Linked DNA regions of Homo sapiens. The protein of the gene in region 1 interacts with the protein of each later gene in a pairwise test. Each region holds a gene or a part of one and is shown in the gene's direction. Other genes may lie near its edges.

The links.
Region 2: the proteins of COMT (region 1) and S1PR3 interact in binary tests that used the Homo sapiens proteins (3 or more experiments, as listed by UniProt).
Region 3: the proteins of COMT (region 1) and SLC10A6 interact in binary tests that used the Homo sapiens proteins (3 or more experiments, as listed by UniProt).

What each region holds. Positions count from the first base shown.
Region 1 is NC_000022.11:19,940,264-19,944,013, forward strand, and holds the start of COMT (catechol O-methyltransferase), read left to right. Parts: upstream 1-1,540; 5' UTR 1,541-1,634; intron 1,635-3,750. Other genes in the region: TXNRD2 (thioredoxin reductase 2, mitochondrial isoform 5 precursor), read right to left, coding at 1,438-1,540. UniProt on the Homo sapiens protein: Catalyzes the O-methylation, and thereby the inactivation, of catecholamine neurotransmitters and catechol hormones. Also shortens the biological half-lives of certain neuroactive drugs, like L-DOPA, alpha-methyl DOPA and isoproterenol.
Region 2 is NC_000009.12:88,994,437-88,998,086, forward strand, and holds part of S1PR3 (sphingosine 1-phosphate receptor 3), read left to right. Parts: exon of another isoform or gene 1-1,706; intron 1,707-3,650. UniProt on the Homo sapiens protein: Receptor for the lysosphingolipid sphingosine 1-phosphate (S1P). S1P is a bioactive lysophospholipid that elicits diverse physiological effect on most types of cells and tissues.
Region 3 is NC_000004.12:86,825,288-86,828,937, reverse strand, and holds part of SLC10A6 (sodium-dependent organic anion transporter), read left to right. Parts: intron 1-769; coding exon 770-945; intron 946-3,360; coding exon 3,361-3,518; intron 3,519-3,650. UniProt on the Homo sapiens protein: Transports sulfoconjugated steroid hormones from the extracellular compartment into the cytosol in a sodium-dependent manner without hydrolysis.

The sequences.
Region 1 (3,750 bases):
AAACCCCAAAAAAACAACTCATATGGTTTAGTAACAGACTGGGCACGAAAGGGCTATTTAAAAAACAGTTGCTCCTCTGGCGGAAAGGAATGCCTGGAGACTACTTATTTTATTTCTTACTGGGAGGACCAGGATCATCATCCTATTTTGCATAGAAGGTTCAGTTTGTTCTTTCCCTTAAAATAGGAAGATAAGGGCATTATCCCCCTAAGTCTCGTATGATATTCCCCATTCTGAGTCCAGAATACCTAGAAATTTGGAATTTGGCTATTGCCGTGTCTGGACTGTGAGTATGGGAAGGGGAAGCTTTTCTGTCTGTTGTCCCCACTACCGCCCCTCACATCCGTGATTCTGAACCCCATGATAAATGCCCTTTGAACCTTTTTCCTCCTTTTGATGCCGAATCCCCTTTTATGGGACTCCGCCAGCACGGGTGCATTTAACCTTCCTGAGCTTGCCCACCTGACGCATGCAGCCAAGAAGCTTTGAAAGATGGAGTGCCCTGGCTGAGGGTTCCAGGTCTCAGCAAGGCCACGAGGTGGTGACTGCCTCCCAGAACTCTGTTGGGCCACCCTCCGTCCTGGAGACCCCCAAAACCTCCATAGCACCAACTCTGCCCATTCACACACACAGTCAGCCCTCCCTCCCGAGTCCACCGCGGGCAGAGGGCCAGCCACCATGCCTCCCATAGCCGCCATCCCTGGGAAGGAGCCCTGACCCCGTCCTTACACCCCTCTACACTCACTGCCTGTGGGGAGAGCTGCTCGCTGTCACAAGCATCCAGGGGGCTGGGTCGAGGGGCCCCCTGCATGGTGGGGGACCATGTTGTCGTGCATGGAATGAAACTGGCCACACATAACAGATATGGTGGCGCTCTGGTCGGATCTAGGGGAGTCTGTCCTACAGGATGAGGCTTGAACTGTCCTGAGTGACCAGACACCCAGCCTCTGCTTCGAGTGCTCAGTTATGATTATTGTCCTGATTTAGTTAACTGTTCTTCAGGGGCTCCAGGAGGACGAGTGTGTATCCTCCCATTGCTCTGTGCAGCCTCTAACCTCTAGAGTCTAGGGGTCTGGGGAGAAGTTGGGAAGTCTGGCCAGTGGGGCCGGTGCCTGGTGACCTCGGGAGGTGGGATATCATCATCTTCAGAACTGTAGTTGTTACTGGGATACCAGCTCTGGGAGACCACAGGTGCAGTCAGCACAGCAGGACCTTAGACAAGGCACCCAGCCCCAGTTTCCCCACCTGGGAAGGGGGCTACTTGTGGCTAGAAGCAGCCCGGACTCCTGAGCAAGACTAGACCAAGAGGCCGGTATGTGGACACCCCCGCGTGGGCACCCCCACGGGGACACCCTGGCCACCGCCGCGCGGACACCCTCACGAGGACACCCCGGCCGCGCGGACACCTACCGCGGGGACGCCCCGACCCCATCCTACCTGCTGCGCCCCGCGCCGCGCCCCGCACCCCGCCCGCCACGGCCTGCGTCCGCCACCGGAAGCGCCCTCCTAATCCCCGCAGCGCCACCGCCATTGCCGCCATCGTCGTGGGGCTTCTGGGGCAGCTAGGGCTGCCCGCCGCGCTGCCTGCGCCGGACCGGGGCGGGTCCAGTCCCGGGCGGGCCGTCGCGGGAGAGGTGAGAGCGCTGGCTAGACCGGGGCCGAATGCGGCCGGATTCGGGGCGGGGGCCTTCAGACCTAGGGTGGAACACTGGGATAGGGTGTGGGGAATTCGGACCGCTGTGAAGTGATCTGACGTTGGGTGGGAGTCTCCGGACTTGGGGTGGGGAATCTGGATGGGAACTGGGGAATTCGGACCTTGGGTGGGGATCTTTGGACCGGGGTGGGGTCCCCAGACTCCTTGTGGAAAGCTGAGGTTGAAGATCTGTGCTGTGATGAGGGGCTCCAGATAGCGGTGAGAGATCCCGCTTCAAGACTGGGTTGGGGGTCCAGACCAGGAGGATAAGCCTCTCCCTGGAGTAGGGCTTGACCTGGTGAGGGTGTGGTAGAGTCACAGGGGAGGGTCCCACTTGGTCCTTGGGCTGGGATCAGACTCTCAGAGCTGGAGAGTTGCAGGAGGCCTGGGGGAGGGTCTGTGGAGCCCCAGACTCAGAGGGCCTTGGTGACTTCTCCAACAGGCTCCCTGTTGGAGGCCTTGGGGTACCCCAGGGCCTTTCCCTGCAAGAGAGAGGCTGCTCCACCAGGAAGGGGCCCAGGACTCCCCAGGGTCGGGGGGATGTGTGGTGTGCAGGACCACGTGGGAATGTTAGAGAAAGGGGAAGTCACTCCGGGCCTGCCCTGCTAACAGACCTGCTTTTTGGATTTTTCCAGCCAGGGATTTTTGTGTCCTGTTGCTTTTTATTGTTTAAAGTGACCCTCCAAGCCTGAGGGACCGTAGGAGCTGCCCTGCAGAGCCCAGTGAGACACTAGTTAATGCAGAAAAAACAGATTTTACTTGGTAACTACTGACAACATGAGAAAAAGCTGGCTCCATGCTGATTTGTCTAGATGTGCCTGGAGTTTAAAGGGAGAGTGAGGGAGTGGGAAGGGGTGGGGACTCAGTAGAGTTAGGGAAACAGAAAATCACCAAAACTGGGAAGGGAGGGTTGGCCCCTGTGAAACCAACTGATCTGGGTTTGCCACTGGGGCTTACCGAAGTCAGGCCCCCAACCTCCCACAGAGACTGGGAGACAGGGGCCCCATCCTCAGGTGTTGGCTGGAACACACAGGAAATTCTTGTGGCAGCCTTGAACTTCTCAGGCAGGCACTTTAGAGGGGGCTAGGATCGTTCTGGGAATGTGGCCTTGAGCTGTTAGGAGCTATGTTAGTGTTCGTTCCAGCCTAGATAGGCCAGGGTGAGGCCCAGTGGAGAAGGGGACTCTAAGGAGCCTGGCTGGAGTGTGGGGAGGGAGGGTCTTTGTCAGCACTCCCCCTGTGCAAGAAGAGCAGAGACCTGCTTCTTTCCTCTCAACAGTCCCCGTCCATTTTCTGTTCTGTGTTGTGTTCATAAACTACCAGCGGGACCATCTGTTGAGACTTGGTAGCAAAGGATTTTTGCTGGATGATGCAAGCAGTCAAGCATTTAATGAGGAAACAAAAATAACAGGCCAGGCACAGTGGCTCATGTCTGTAATCCCAGCACTTTTGGAGGCCGAGGAGGATCACTTGAGGCCAGGAGTTTGAAACAAGCCTGGGCAACATAAAGACCCCATCTCTACAAAAAATTTAAAAATTAGCCCGGCGTGGTGGCATGGGCCTATAGTTCCAGCTACTTGGGAGGCTGAGGTGAAAAGATCGTTTGAGCCTGGGAGGCGGAGGCTGCCATGAGCCATGATCTTGCCTCTATACTCCAGCCTGAGCAACAGAGAGCCCCTATCTTTAAAAAAAAAAAATAATAATAAAATAAAAAAATAAAAAGAAAGAAAGAAATAAAAACAAAGATGAATGGAGCTGTTGATAAACCCAGTTTTTGAGCCTACAGGGCAGCAGTTGAGGTTTCTGGCCGTTGGGCCCTAACAAGGCCAGCAGGGGCACTCAGGGACTTCCTGGTGTGTGGTGTGAAGTCTGTGATGATGGCATAGGCATTGGTATCCCAGTTGTGGTTACTTTCTGGAGAGAGCATGTGGCATGCAGGAGCTGGAGGGGGGGTCTTCCTGGGCGGCCTGTGTAGCAGCAGCTCCAGGCACAAAGGCTGCCCCTGGAGAATCTGTTGTGGTTCTGAGTTCTTTCAAGTTTATATCAAGTTTTCCGGCT
Region 2 (3,650 bases), on another chromosome or scaffold:
TCACAGAGCCTATTTCCACATCCCTGTGGATTCATCCCTGTGGAAATCTTGAGAATCATTTATCCTATGCTGTCATGAAGCAGCAGCAGAATGGAGAAGGTTTAAAAAGACTCATGGACAGGCAAAGCGGTCAAACACCTCCTGGCTCAGACGCACTTGCCTTCCCACACACAAGTCTGGAAGCTCAGGATGGTGTTCACGGAGGCAGATGCTCGGGGCCGGGGCCTGAGTTTCCTGGGGCACAGCCTCCATATCTGGGGTTCCCTGGACTATGCCCAGATAGCTCATAATGTCCCAGCCTTATTTGTGATGGAGAAGGACTTGGGGAAAAGCCACCGGGAAGCAGTAAGTCTAACCAGGGAAGTGCACTGACTTGCATGCTTTGAAGAAGAGAAGGGAGAAAAGATACAAAACCCTCACCTGGTTTGTCTGTAACAGTTGTTATTTCTCAGGGGAGCTGCATTAATGGGCCAAGCCTGTGCAGCTGGGTGTGTGAAGCATGCATTTTGCAATGGACTGTCTCCAAAAGCAGAGCGAGGTCACCCAAGAAATCTAGAGCAAGGGAAAATACTCATTAGCAAAGGAATTTTGCTGGAGCCTTGTAACGGCCGACTCATTATTTCCTTTCCAAGTTATTTTAAATGAAATTTTAAAAAACATCTTGCTTTCCAAGAAATTTTGCTTGTTGGCATATGTTTGGTGTTTTGATTCAGTTTGGAGGATGAACTAGTTAATTTCCCTGGGAGTACATGCCTATTAAAAATATAGCATCCTGCATCTGACCAAGATGCTATCTTACTATCTTATTGTGCCTATCTTTTATGCGGAGAGAGAAAGGGGGGTGTTGGGAAGGAGACCAGACTGTGGAAACATTTTCTTTATTTTTTCTCTTTTTCTTCCTTTTATAGTTTGTTTATTTTTCAACTTGACATGGGTAGAGAAAGCGAATCGCTAGTATAGAAAGCACATCTGGAATCCATCCGGCCTCCTCTCTCTGGCTCACCCTCCTCCCAGCAATGTTTCTCCTTGGAAGTTGGGGGAAGGTAGGCACCTCTGACCTTGGCAGGGTCTAACTTGGGGTCATCCACTGCATACTCATCTTCCAGAAGGCGTCTTATTCCTCCTCGACAAAAAAAAAATGTGTTGGTATTAAAATGCTTTGAGGTAGGCTGGATGAACCCAGCTTAGTGAGGATGACATGAAAACCCTTAGCTAATGGGGTCTTTATTGAGTAGAACTCAGGTAAGTTCAGATGTAAGCAGTGTCTCTCAGTAAACATGAAAAGACTGAAGATGCAGACAATCAAATACTTAAGTCTCTTGAAGAGCTGGGTGGTGGGCGGGGGTCTTCCCAGGTGGTCAGGGAGATGTGTTAGTGTAGCACTTGGAAGAGAGTGGAACGACCAGGCAAGGATGTGCCGTGGAGGTGGGCAGTGGGAGCAGCCCAGTGTCAGCATCTGTATTGGTTAGAAGACCACCGCTAATGAGGAGGAGCGTCTCTACCCTGCAGCTGTCTGTACTCCTGTGTCTTCCGTAATGTGCCAAGCTCTCTGAATATATGCAAAACTAGTCTGCAAAAAGCCATATGTCTCAGCATCTGGCTTTATTTCTAAGTGTTCAGGTGGAATTTAAGCCGCGATCAAATTTACAATGTCACTGCCAGCTCTGGACACTTACTTTTGGAATAAAGCAAAGAGTGAACACTAATACTGCATCAGTCTTGCCCTCTGTTAGGGGCCGCCCCTTCTCCCCACACCAGTTTTGCAAGATGGGCTGGCTGGGGTCTGAGAAACCCAGTGCCTCCGAGTCATGGTTAAAGCCCATCTCAGACACCAACACACCGCTCACAAATCAACATCGACCTGCGAAAACATGGACATGTGTTCGCCAAGAGAACATCCTCAATCAATCCCAGCAGTGCTACTTGATGATAATCAACACATGGGCCATGGAAGAAATTACCCCATGTCCATAAACAAGAATGAATAGAGGGTAGTGTATCTACCCACACCATGAGAGCAAGAATATTCAGCATGCAGGTGCATCTATGTGCATGACTCGTACAAGCATCATGGGGAGAGGAAAGCAATGGACACAATTGTATCCTGTAGGGTTTCATTCACGTGAAGGTCAGAAGCAGGCTAAACTCACCTAGGGGAGAGTCCTATCCCAGGTAGTGGTCATGCTTGGGGACAGGTGGTGACTAGGAGGGGCACAAGGAAGGCTGCAGGGTCCGGCCCATCTTGTTGCTGGCCTGGGTGCTGGTCTCACTGATCTCTGTGTGGTGGGGCAGGTCAGCCTCCCAGGCCTGCTGGTGCCTGCAGTGCCCAGCACTCCTGCCGTGCCTGGCAGTGTTAGTACCAATCCGCCAGAGTGACTGACTCCCCTCTTGCCCTGAGTAGGGCTTGCTGACTCCAGGAGCCTCAGGGCGGGGTGGGCTTTGAGCTTTCTTCTAGCAAACTTGAGGTCTGTGGCTGGTACCCCTCAGGAGCGGAGGGGAACTCTTGTCCATGAGATGCTTTTAACCGTGCGCAATAATGTGTAGACGCATCCAAAATCAATCTGGCCTTTAGCCCAGCACTTAACTCTTGGGATGAGGCCTGCTTTGTAAATGTTGATAATCCAGAGAAAATGAGCTTTTAGATTCCAAAGACAGCCAGATATCTTCCACTTATGCAAAATGCAGAGAATCATATTTAACAAAAGATGTTCTGGACAAATATGCTTCTTGAGGGATGAATATTTAATTATAAGGGAAATGATAAATCAAACATTAATGGGAAAATATGTTTGCCCTCAAGATTCATGATTTTGATGGGTCTCTGGCAAATCTTATACTATGTTTATTGGGGTTATTTTATTGCTGGTTATTAGTTTTTAATTGTTTGCTTGTTTTCTGCTCTGATCAATTTTTGTATAAGCCGTGGGTCTATTCACCCTCTTCTCTCCATTCCCGGGAGCAAGTCCACATCTGGCTGTTGGATGCATGGCAAAAGCAAAGGTGTGGAGAAGGTTCAGAGGAGACAGGACATGTATAAAATGGTAGGGTCAGGTTGTCATGGGGGAAACTGAGGCACAGGAGGCAAGCTGAGTTAGTACAAGAACAGTCTGAATCATAACGACATGCCAGTATTACCTAAAAGGATGAGGAACATGGAGCTGTACTTGAATCCCTACGTGAGCTGGGGAAAAGGGGCCTCAGGAATCACTGACATTGGAACCAAGGTTTGTCTGCAGCTTGTCGGTTTCTGGGACAGAAACCCAACATACTGGAGTGGGTATCCCAGCAATCTGTAGGATAAACCAGGACACTGTGGTGTCATGGATAGCTGGCTGTCTGCCAGGTGATGGCCCCTCTGGTTGCAATGTGAGCCGGGCAGGTCATCCATTTGGCAGCATGGTGAGGGCTCTGGCCCCAGTTGCTATGGGAGGGAGGATGCTGGCACAGGGCACTGTTCACAGACTGCCTTTGCTCCATGCCTTTTCCATGAGCATGAGTGGCTGTTCGTGTGGGAAACGGCAGAGCCCTCGCGGTCCCCATCAGCACTGTGCAGTGGTACCGGAGGTGGCAGGAGACAGCCTGATGGCCCAGGTTGTCTTCATACCCGGCTTCATGCCAGGGTGCATGCCGGGCATAGCACATGTGTCCCT
Region 3 (3,650 bases), on another chromosome or scaffold:
TAACTAGGTACACAGTTTACTGTCTACATGATATGAACAGGAGCTTGCCAAGATCCTGATTTTCCCAAAATACCCTAGGTTATGCTTTCTTCCTATTTTATCTAAATCTCAAACTATTCAAAATTTTGTTATTGTTGGCTTTTGTTTCTGTTCTTGTTAAACAACAAAAGTAAGGACAGTATCCATTTGGGAGAGGATAGAGGTCTCCATCAGTATTTCTCATGTGATCATGAGTATTAGCTCAGATTGTCCAATGAAGAATGGGTAAATTTTATTTGGAGGGGAGAAGGACAGGGATCAAAGCAGCAGGCAGCTGCTGGTGGTTGAAGGGGCGGTGGGAGGGGAGGCAGATGGTCAGGCAGGGCAGACGTCAGACTGGAGGTCACAAGCAGAGGGTCATAGAGGTGTGTGCAGGGGTGTTGGAAGCTCATTGTCAGATTCCATTCATTTTACACTTTTGTTCTACCCACAATAGAACTCTACTACCCAATCCTTTTGGCAAAATCTTCTACTTGAAGAGAAAGGTAGATATGCTAAAGCGAGACTTAGATTTGTGTCAAACTCCACCAATTTCTAGCATAGGCAAGTTACTTGACCACTTTGGAACTCAGATTTCTCCTCTACTAAATGAAATTGTATTTAGTCATCTCTAAGTCCCTTCTTTGTTCTAAAATTTCTAGATCCCAAGCATTTTACAACCTTGATGGACTTTGTATCATAGAGCAAAAAACCCTGAGTTTATATTCACTTATTTTATTGTTTGCTTCAGATTGGGGCCGTTGTTGGTGGGGTCCTCCTTCTGGTGGTCGCAGTTGCTGGTGTGGTCCTGGCGAAAGGATCTTGGAATTCAGACATCACCCTTCTGACCATCAGTTTCATCTTTCCTTTGATTGGCCATGTCACGGGTTTTCTGCTGGCACTTTTTACCCACCAGTCTTGGCAAAGGTATAGTTAAACTATCCATAAACTTTTTTGAGGAAGGTAAATTTAACACACTGCCACTGGTAGGCTTTGCTGCCTGTGTCAGGAGACATGAAGAGTTTTGACTTACATAGTGGAATCGACAGGATAACTAAGCATAAAAGAGGGTCATTCATGGCAATTCATGGAAAATATTGTGGTAATTCTTTATGTAAATTAAAGCAAAGGCCAAATTGATAGGAAGAGATAAATTTAAGTTAAAAAAGAATAGAAAACGACATGATTTGATTCCCACTTCGTAGAAGAAAGCAAAAAGAATTCTATGCATCAAAATATACTGGAAGAAATACACCATATGGTAACAATGTTTAATTTTGAGTAGCGAAATTAAGGATAATTTTAGTTCTTTAGTATTTCCTTGGTATATTTTTGAAGCTTTTCAATAAGTATGTACTACTTTTAAAAGCAGAAAAAAATTACTAAAGAAGAGTAAACTATGCAGTTGAATTCCAAAGGTGAAAGTTGGGAATTTTTAATTGGCTTTATGCTACTTCTAATCCACTTGGGGAACATTTAGGGTTGTACTAAGCGCCCGGTAAAGCTTTACCCCATCTATCTCATTTACTTCTTACTACAAGCTTGAGAAGTAGATCCTATCACTACCCTCATTCTACTGATGAGCAGACCCTTCAGAGAAATTAAGTGACTTGACCAAGTTCATAGAGCTAGAAAATTGTGGAGTTAGGATTTGGACCTGGGTTTGTTTCCAAATTTAACAATTAGGAACACAGTCTGTTGAGTGGTTGAAATGCAATTGGCTCTGGACAGAAAGTACTCCTATGGCAAGATGTAGTCCACAATCCCATCTTTTTCATACCTGATAGCCTGACAAAGCCCAGGACTGAGATTTGGCTCATGAATGGTGCAGGTGTGAGTTCCAGCTTTGTAGCTTAATCATATCGAGTTTTTGACAAAAGTCTCAAAGAAGTGAGGGTGGTTTGAGACAAGTGTAGCAAGCAATAGAATAAGTAGAAATAACGTATGAACACAGAGCTTGCCCTGTACCATTGACAGCATTTTCACCCCCTCATTACACACCCTTGTTACTTCCCCATTCCAGTCCAGCTTGCACAGAGGTGCTTGTTTGTTTTCTGAAACACCTCTTTTATCTCCTCACTTCCACATATAAAACACTGCAGGCTCCCTTTATAAACTGGAGACGTGAAACTGCTTAACTCAGCCCTCAACATCCTGCCCAGGTCTTCCCTCTATTCCCTCCTTTGTCTTTTCAAATGAGGTTTACTTCATTTTATGCAACCAGAAAACCAATAAAGTATAGAAAAGTAGAAAGCAAAAAGAAAAATTATTACCAAACTCTTTCACCAAAGATAATCATTTTAGGAATTTGGTCTTTATTCAGGGTTTTTGTGTTTTTATTTATTTATTTATTTATTTATTTATTTATTTATTGAGACCTCGTTGCCCAGGCTGGAGTGCAACCTCTGCCTCCTGGATTCAAGTGATTCTCGTGCCTCAGCCTCCCGAGTAGCTGGGATTACAGGAGCGTGTGCCACCACGCCAGGCTAATTTTTGTATTTTTGGTAGGGACAGGGTTTCACCATGTTGGCCAGGCTGGTCTCGAACTCCTGACCTCAGGTGATCCACCCACCTTGGTCTCTCAAAGTGCTGAGATTACAGGCGTGAGCCACTGTGCCTGGCCTTGTTTATTTGTTTTTAAGTGTTGGTTAGTTTATATTGTTTCATATGTCTTTCAAAAATATATATACGTTTTTCTTTTTGTAGAGACAGGGTCTTACTCTGTTGCCCAGGGTGGTCTTGAATTCCTGGCTCAAGCAATCTTCCCGCTTCTGCCTCTCAGTGCTGGGATTCCAGGCATGAGCCACCATGTCCTGCATCATATCTCTAACTCAACTTTCCATTCTTGTCTCCTCCAGTCCTCTCCTCTCTGCAGATTGGCTTACAGTATATGCAATGCCTGCTGAACAGGCCACACTCACACCTCTCCCTGGAACTTTAATTTTTATAATATTTCCCCCTCATCAAAAGCTTCTTCTATTTTTTTCCATCCTTAAATCCCACTCCTCTGTGAAGCCTTCTCTCACCCCTTCTGCCATTTTCTAAATTTCTACATCTGCGTGGCCTTTGGCCATACTTTGTCTTGTGTTGTTGCTGAACCTCTCCTGTGTGTTTATCTTGTCTTTTTACTCAGATGCCTAGGGCAGGGTTTGCAAAGCCTCACTCCACCGTGCCTCTCAGAAGACCACCTGCAGAATAGGCACTCAGCAAATAACTATGGAATGAGTACACATTTTCAGTGGCCTGAGGTCATAGCTTCTAATTGTTATGATGCATATGAGAAAATATTAGAATAGTTCTTATTGCTAGTGCGTTACTCTTGAAACATTTTCTTTTTGGTAGGTGCAGGACAATTTCCTTAGAAACTGGAGCTCAGAATATTCAGATGTGCATCACCATGCTCCAGTTATCTTTCACTGCTGAGCACTTGGTCCAGATGTTGAGTTTCCCACTGGCCTATGGACTCTTCCAGCTGATAGATGGATTTCTTATTGTTGCAGGTGGGTGAACACCCATTGGGTAGGAAATAACTGACGGGAAATTGTTCACCCCAACTTACCAACTTTTTTTTCAATCCAAACTTGCATGTGCTGCCCCTGTGATACACTTTTTGAAAGCCTGACATTTCTGGG